Linked DNA regions of Homo sapiens: region 1 is reported to be linked to region 2. Evidence: microRNA targets listed by miRTarBase, many of them from high-throughput screens and not tested one by one. Region 2 holds a microRNA gene; the other region holds the end of a gene's coding sequence.

Region 1 (4,399 bases), not on the chromosome of region 2:
TTTGTGTGTGAACAGAGATGGTTTTATTTCTTCCTTTCTAATCTATATGCCTTTATTTCTTTTTCTATTGCACTAGGAAAGACCTTAGGTATGATAATGAATAAAATGGTGAGCTTGGACAGCCTTGCAGTAGGTCTTTCACCATTAGCAATAATGTTAGTTGTAGTTCTTTGTTGATGCCTTTTATTAGGTTGAAAAAGTTGTTTTCTATTTCTAGTTTGCTAATTCTTATTGCAAATGAATGTTCAGTTTTGTTATATGCTTGGTCTATACCTATTCAAATAAACATGCTTTTTTTCTTTAGTCTGTTTTGCTTTACTGTTTCTTCTTGAATCTGCCATACATTGATTGATGTTCAAATGTTGAACCAACCTTGTGTTCCCAGGAAAATGACCTTGTAGTCATATGTATTATCCTTTTATATAATGCTGGATTCAATTAAGTAAGATTTGTTGAAGAATTTTCTGTCTATGTTTATGAGGAACATTTGTCTGTATTCTTCTTTTCTTGTATTGTCTTTGTCTTTGGTTTGCATATTAGGGTAATGCTGGCTTCACAAAATGAGTTGGAAAGTGCCCCCTCTATTTTCTGGTAAAGTTTGTGTAGAACTGGTATTATTCCTTCATTCAATGTTGGGTAGATTTTGACAGTAAAGGCATCTGGGGCTAGAGTTTTCTTTGTTGGTTCTTAACACAAATTATATTTTTAAAAGTAATTTATGACTACTCAGTCATAAATTATATTAAAGGAATATATCTATTCCATAAGTGAGCTTTGGTAGTTTCTTTCAAAGCATTTGTCTATTTCATCTAAGTCTTCAATTTAATGGGCATAAAGTTGTTTGTAATCTTTCTTATTGTCCTTTTCATGTCTGTAATAATGTCTCCTTTTCATTCCTGATTTGTTGATTTATGTCATCTTTCTTTCTCTCATTTCTTAATGAGCCTGGCTAAAGGTTTGCCAATTTTGTTCACCTTTTCAAAATATCAGTCTTTTATTTACACTCTACTGAGATGTGAAGAATGGAAAATAAATATCACTCCTTAACAAACAGGCAAACTACCTGTACTTCAGTCTACCTTTGGAGTTGGTGGCAAAATTTTAGAATAAGCTTAGTTCTTGTTTTATAGCTACTGTTCCTTCCTCCATGTCTAAACCTGCATATATATTCCAACCGCCATTTGTTTCAGTAGACTTCCTTGAAGCATCTGCAGACAACAGTCAAAAGAAGGAGGAGAAGAGGGCAGGGAATTTTATATGTGGATCTTCTCTCGGTCATGTATTTATGAGTAAAGACCACCTTTCCCATTTCCCTATGATATGTATTAAATGGTGACATACAACTTTAAGTCATTCTTTTTTGAAAAAAGTTAAGTTTGGTTTAAGTATTTTTTGTATTCACAAGTGCTCAATGATCATCTATATTTTCTTCTTCCTCAACAGACAATAAATACACAAAGAATATCTGAAACTTTAAGTCATTACTTCCTTCTCAGAGTGATATGATTACAGTGTGTCCACAAATAATTTTATTCATGATATTAATTAGTATAATTTGGTCCAGTAAATTTCAGTTCAGATATAGCAGTTTGTGTTTTTTTAACTTTTATTTTTATTTTGAGATAATTGTAGATTTACATGCAGTTGAAATAATACAGAGATTCCATGTGCCCTTCACCCAATTTCCCCCAGTGGTAACATCTTGCAAAACTATAGCACAATATCACAACTGGGATACTGACATCGATAGCTGTGATATAGAACATTTCCATCATCACAAGGATCCCTCATGTTTCTCACAGCCACGCCCAATTCTCTCCCATCCTCACCCCCTCCTTAACACAGCCACCACTAATCTGTTCTCCATTTCTATAATTATGTCACTTCAAGAACGTTATATAAATGGAATCTTTTGGTACAAAACCTTTTTAAATTGGCCTTTTTCATTCAGCATAATTCTCTGGAATTATAAGTTGCTGCCTGTACCCATAGTTTGTTCTTTTTTATTGCTGAGTAGCACTCACGGTATGAATGTACTATGGTTTGTTTAATCATTTACCCAATGAAGAAAATCTGGGTTGTTTTTGGTTATTACACATAAAATTGCAATAAACATCAATGTACATGTTTTTGTGTGAAAACATGCTTATAATAATGTGAAACTCTATGCCTAATTTTCTAGTTGACAACTGTAGAGCAACAGATGTCAAGACATTTGCCAAAAGTGACAGACCACTTCTTTATAAATGCGAATTAACTAATGGCTCACACTTATCAGTACTTGCAGCTTTAAAACTATCTGCTACCTGACTTTGAAAAGTCATTGACTCTATCTCTTTGAGCTTCAATTAGACAAGATAAATGTTTTTCAAAATGTATTATTTGAAATGTGAACTTCATGAAATGCTCTGAAAAAGGAGGGGGGTGGTGGATTTCATGGCCAAAAAAAGTTTGAGGAAATGCTAAATATTGCATCTCCCCCGACTTTTTTTTTTTTTTTTTTTTTTTTTGAGATGGAGTCGCACTCCATTGACCAGGCTGGAGTGCAGTGGTACAATCTCCACTCACTGCAACCTCAGCCTCCCGGGTTGAAATGATTCTCCTGCCTCAGCCTCCCGAGTAGCTGGGATTACAGGCATATGCCACCACACCCAGCTAATTTTTGTATTTTTAGTAGAGACGGGGTTTCACCATGTTGGTCAGGCTGGTCTTGAACTCCTGACCTCATGATCCACCCACCTCAACCTCCCAAAGTGCTGGGATTACAGGCGTGAGCCACCACGCCTAGCCACCACCGACTTTTTTTAATTAACAAAAGCACATTGGTGTACAAAAAGATGAATCTAATATCGAATTACTCAAGTTCAAATCCAAGCTCCATCACCTGCTAGATACAGTAACCCTCAGCAAGACACTCAAGGTTGAGTGCCTTCAAATTATATCTCAAATTACTTATCTGTAAAATGGAGATAATAGTACCCACTCACACAAATGGAAGAACAATTATAATTAACTTGTTAAATGTTAGCTATTATTCTTACTGCCATGATTACCAGAATCATCATCAACATCATCATGGTCTTACTAAAAATACATATGTTCAGGCTCCACTCCTGGAGACTGAAATTCATTAAGTCTGGGGTATAGTGTGATCCAGATGAAGAAGCAGAGGTTCATATTAAGAACATGTCCAAGACAGTACCAAAGACAGGATTCAAAGACAGTCCAAATTGCCTGGTGGGAAGGCGTAATACTTATGCCCATACACAAATTTAGTATATCATTTAAATTACTAATTCTGTGGTCCTGCAAAAAGTGTACAGTTCTCTCCCAAAATGGACTTGTAACATCATAAACTCGTGATTTCTAAAGGGGTAATTCAATAAAATAAAATGCAGTTCTTTGCAGGTGGTACACACCAGCTTTCAAAAAATTCCTAAATATAGCAGTTAACATTGATACATCAAAGTTTTGTGAACCTTAGCTTAGCAAGTCAAATATGAAGACATTCTTTCCTTAGAAATAAAACAGTTATGATTTCTATTATTTCTGTAGGTTCCATCACCACATTGCTGATTTCCAAAGGTCCTCTTAATGTCAGTACCAGGCAAATTTCCAGGACACTTGGGGAATCATTCTGAAGGTGATGGCAATCTTCTTACCACTTCCACAGCAATCCTCAAGTAAGCTTTGGCCTGGAAAAGAACAAACTTATTTGTTCTGTATTTCTCTTCAGCAGACATTGAATGACTCATCAACTGTTTGTTATAGAGGCCCACTGTATTTGATAGTAAAAAGGCTGAGTGAGATGAGGAAATTCAGTATTGAGAAGATAGTGCTGTATATATTGCAGGCGGCACAAGGAAGAAAGAATTTTAGATTATTTGGAGGGTAATTATTTGGAAGGTGACTCTGAAGTAATATTTAGTACCAGAAATTACTGTTTTTCAAATTCTAATTCTGGTGTCAGCAAACTAGCAACCCAGTCTAGTTGCAGAGAGATTACACCTTTTTGCTCTGAAAAATTGATATATTGAGTTAGAGACTGCCAAAACTTCTTTAGCATAAGAGCTGTTAGTCATTTTAAGGAGGACTATTTATTACCATGCTACAGTTTATCTTAGGAAAGCATTTTCTTCATCTCCCCGAGAATGGTGTGTAATACCAGCACCAAGCACCTATAGGCTCTTTCACCTGGTAAAAAATGGATATCATGCAAAAAATCCTAGTTCCATTGTTACACTCTTTATGTCTGGGATCCCAGTGTCATGGGACACTAACAGCAGCTCTTAAGCCACAGAGTGGGCCACAAGCTAACCTAATGCCTGCATGGTAATGATATTTGCATTTTAAGAGTTCCTTTAAATAAATGTAATGCAAAATTACTTATATCCTCTAC
Region 2 (4,399 bases):
ACTCTGGCACAGACCCAATTAACCTGAAATAGGAGAGAAGGGACTTTATCCTCTAATTGAGTTACATCTTGAGGTGGAGTGAGCTGATGGATTCTGGGAGGTCACTGAGGGATGGTGGCCTCATGCTGAAGGTGGATGCCTCACGGGGAATGGATTCCTAAACTTACCGTGCTCTGTTCTTCTTGTAGACAACCCAGGGAGTCCAGCAACCCATAGTACGGTGCATCCAAGAGTCCAGAAACCCATAGTACAGGGAATCCAAATGACCTGATAAGTCTTTAGGAGCCTGGAGATTCACAATCAAGAGGACAGGCCTACTTTTGAGGAAGGCAGGTTCTGGAGGGAGAGTGAGCTTAAAGTCAGCCCCCATTCCTGATATCTTCTCTTGGCTTGGCTGTTGTTCCAGCTTATGTGGTTTCTTCCCTTCATCCCTGGGGTGGGGGAGTCACGAGCATAGACCTGGTACCAGGCAGTCCTGGGGTAGAATCCTCATTCAGCCTGTGTTCCCACCAAGAAAATAGAAATAGGTTGTATTATTTCTACCTCCCTTGTGAGATTGTTGTGGAGATGATCATTTCCAGAGGGCACTTTAAGCAGAACTTGGCATGTGGTAAGAGCTCAGCCCACATCAGTGCCATTGCCATCGTCATCCTCAGGCTCATTTGAATTAAAGATGAAGGGGGCAGCTCCTCGGCATTCATGATTCCATGGGCTGTGGGCGTCCTACGAGCAGATTTCTGCTGATGTGAGCCAACGAGGGGCAAATCAGTTTAACCACATCTGGGACCCAGGTTAGGGCCCTCCGGAGAAGAGGCTTTCACAGGGTAATGCTCTATGGAAACTTTAGTGTTGGGTTTCTTCCCCTGATTTATGCTATCCTTAGGATCCCACTACTAGGGCCAGGAAGAAATAACTGAAGTTCCTGCATGTGAATAAGAAGGCAGTCACTTATTTCTGGAAACTACAGCTGAGACTTGGGGAAGCTGCTTAGGATGATGACATTTGCATTTCACACCATAACGGAAATGGTGCCTCTGTGTGTCGTAGTTTACTCTTAACAATGAAGCATTGCATGCCCACTACATGCCAGCCCTGGGCTGGCATTGACAATTAACAGAAAAACCCTTTGGAAGAGTCATGTTAAGTTTAGTGGCCATAGAGCAAGGAGCATCCAGGATGAGAGAGCCCTCAATATCTGGAGTCGAGGTTGCTTCTGCAGAGAGTGAGGACAGGAGCCCCTATATGCAGCACCTCTGCACCTGGGCAGTCACTTGTGCTGTGTGACCACTTGGTGCTCAGGGCCTCGGTCTCTGCAGCTGCTGCCATGCTGAGAACAGCACAGGTGCCAGTTCACACAGGTCTCATGCCCAGGATGTCCTTAGCAGATGCCTCACAGTGGATAGCTGGAACCCAGAATGGACCTGACCCTTCTGTTGTTCGTGTCCTGTTGGCTCTGGACAGGGTACCCTCCACAAGCATGTCAAGCAAGGCCCTGGGCAGCCCCTACCCATGGTCCAGTTGGAGGTGGCAGCAAGGTGAGCTTAGTAAGGCACCAGCTTAGGGCAGCTAGGGCAAGCCAGAGAGTCAGAGATCACAGCCCAGATGGTGCAGCAGGCCCTACTTCTGCCATGATGCGTATGACAGATTACATCATCTGTCTGGCATACCCAGGTAAAATAGATCAAGAGTCCTGCCAGTTCCACACATTGGCTGCAATCCCTTTTATACACACACAGTTTTTCATCGTGTAAGTGTATGGCAATGATATTATTACAGGGATAAATTTAAATCCACTTGAAATTCATTATCATAAAACAACTCATTTCCAACTCAGCACACCTGAGGTATTGTTATTCACACATTACTTGTGACCTCCCAACTCACACAAGTTGATATCTGGGTATAGAGTGTGATTTTTCTCCCATTAGGGACTCCAGAAGAGTTCTTGAAATAGCTGCCTCCCCAGCTCCACCTCTCACCCCTTGTGCCTGCCCAATGTTTCCAGAAGGCGCAACTATAGACAGCAAAGGTCCTGTGTGCACCTCCCCAGAGAAACCCAAACCCTCACACTTCTCTGGAGCCACATGGCCAGATGAAACCTCTGAGAAGGAACCAAAGCCTTGTCTGTCCTGATGGCAGAAGTTGCAACCCTGTAGGGCTTCTCAACATGTGATCTAAGACCACAGCTTTGTAACCTAACTCAGCCACGGTCCTAGTTAAAAAGGCACATTCCTAGACCCTGCCTCAGAACTACTGAACAGAGTCACTGGGTGTGGAGTCCAGGAATCTGCATTTTTACCCCTATCGCCCCCGCCATTCCCGCCCTTCCCCCCGCCATTGCGTGCACTAATTGCTGGAAGCACTCATGAGGAGAGCCGCCTGTGTTGTGTAGAACTCCCACCCCCGCAACACACACTCACTCACCCTTTCACTTACCAACAGTTTCCTGGGCTTGGGAGGTCTGGAGAAGGCAGTAGCCCTGCAAATTGAGAAAGGCAAGCCTCGGAAGTGGACTCTTATATCTCTACTGCCAAAAGGGGCTACATCCTCTCAGGCCCCTGGGTTCATTCCTTGAGAACAGGGCTCAGCTGTGGGAGCTGATAAAACAAGGCACCCTTCCAGTTACTGAGCACCTTCTGGTGGCCCACACTGTGCTGGGCATTGCACATGAGCCGTCTCTCGTCCTTGGGGAAGATAGTAGTTGTTATCCATGCTCTATAGGTGTGGAAACTGAGGCCCAGAGAGGTTATGTGGCTGGTCCAAGGTCACACAGCTGAAGTGAGATTGTAACCCAGGGCTGCCTGACTCCAGAGCCTGTGTGTTCTCCAGTGGTGACATTGCTGGGGTAGTCTTGGGGGGCAGTGTGAGCTAGTTCATAGGATGGAAGAGTACTGTGAGGAATGTTGGGGTATTTCAAGGTTTGATAAACCAAAATTCCTCTGGGCCGTTGGGCATTTGAGAGACGGAACACTGAGAACATAAGACATGCTGAGATTTAGGTTGTTTTAGAACCTGAAATCTCAGCTTACTCCTCCCAGAACTTGTGCTGACTTTCGGAAAAAGGAAACATTTTAGCCTGGTTTGGGTTCTGGATTGCAGTAGCAGTGGTGTTTGCTAAACTAAAGAAGGGAACTGGAGCTTCTATCAGTGCATTATTAAAGCAGAACTGGCTGACTGTCTCCCTGGGAAATAACAGGACTGAGGCTTGTGCCTCCAGCCAGAGATTGCTCCTCCATAGCCCCCATTGCCACCGCTTCTACTACTTTTGCCTCCACTCCCCAGCCACCCAGTGATCCACCCTGCCAGAATGCACAATGCCGGCATTGATCATTCCCCAACCCACGGTACAGTTCAGTTTCCTCTGCTGCTAATTGGCCATGAGAGCTCCGTTATGAGGGATCAGAATTGTTAGTCTCTTCCTAATGATCTCTGTCTGGAGACCAACTTCATGACATTCTCCAATTAGGGAGTGCGGAGGGGGCAGGGCAGCGCTATTCATCTGCCCAGAACCCCCATGAAGTGACATGGGCTCATTATGCAGGAGACCCAAGCCACTGGTCCTGCGGGTCAGCACAGCCCAGGAGAGCCACGGAGGCAGGTCTCCCCCTCTCACCTCCCCAGACTCCCGGCTATCCTTTGCTCCCTGTGTCCTCCCTTCATGGCAAAGACTTTCCTTTGGTCAGGCTTGAAGGACAACACTCTGTCTTCTGCTAGCACACTCTGTGCTTTAAAAATTCCTAACTGGGAAAGATGACTTCTTTTGAGATCAAAGGCACACTCTCAGGGATGTTGGGGCAATGAGGAAGGTGAAAGCTACAGAGGAAGTCAAGACTGGTCCACTTCCAGCTCCCCATATGTGGAAGAAGAGAAGACCAAGGCCAAGAGAGAAGGGTCTTGCTCAGGGGGGGTCCCCAGCACTTAGACAGGAAGACTAGAGCCCCCCACGTCATTCCTGCTTCCCTTCTCCTCACCCTAACTTCAAATGCAGGCTCTTTATCCTATGTCCCTGTTCTCCCTTTGGACCCAGCCAGCTTCTGGATTTCTTCCGCCACTTGGCTTATCGTGCAGTGGACAAACCACACGGCTACACTTGACAGCCAGAAACTGGATCATAAGCTTTGAGGGCAGGATCCATATCTCCCTTATTCTCTGCTGTGTCCCAGGACCTAGCATCTCACCCACAGTAGGAACACAGAATTATTCAATGAGTGAATTAATTAATTAATGCTTTAACTTTAAAGTTCAAATGTAGAGTTTCAGAGAGGAACCCAGAAGGGCTATTCAAAGAAATGAATATCCAACAGTGGAAATTCAGATATTACAGAGTCTTGGGAGGTCAGTTGGGCATTAATTCTTTCCTCACAAGAGTCTGCTAATTACTTTTCCAGGTTTTCTGCTG

The links. The annotated mature microRNA hsa-miR-1289 reads UGGAGUCCAGGAAUCUGCAUUUU and lies in region 2 at 2,274-2,296, shown strand. An mRNA with a match to its seed (bases 2 to 7 or 8) in the 3' UTR can be bound and repressed. Matches are read on the target gene's strand: a 7mer-m8 pairs with bases 2 to 8, a 7mer-A1 pairs with bases 2 to 7 and ends in A, and an 8mer does both.
Region 1: miRTarBase lists NUBPL as a target of hsa-miR-1289. Seed matches in the 3' UTR shown: 7mer-A1 at 2,515-2,521.

Annotation. Positions count from the first base shown.
Region 1 is chr14:31,858,414-31,862,812 of GRCh38, reverse strand. NUBPL (NUBP iron-sulfur cluster assembly factor, mitochondrial) reads right to left here. Exons shown (of 11, transcript NM_025152.3): 11 at 1,589-3,695. The coding sequence ends at 3,633. Among named protein-coding and RNA genes, the nearest start is that of LINC02313, 84 kb to the left of the region's middle.
Region 2 is chr5:133,425,512-133,429,910 of GRCh38, reverse strand. MIR1289-2 (microRNA 1289-2) reads left to right here and starts at 2,205; the gene lies at 2,205-2,315. All of the region lies in intron 3 of FSTL4 (follistatin like 4), which reads left to right.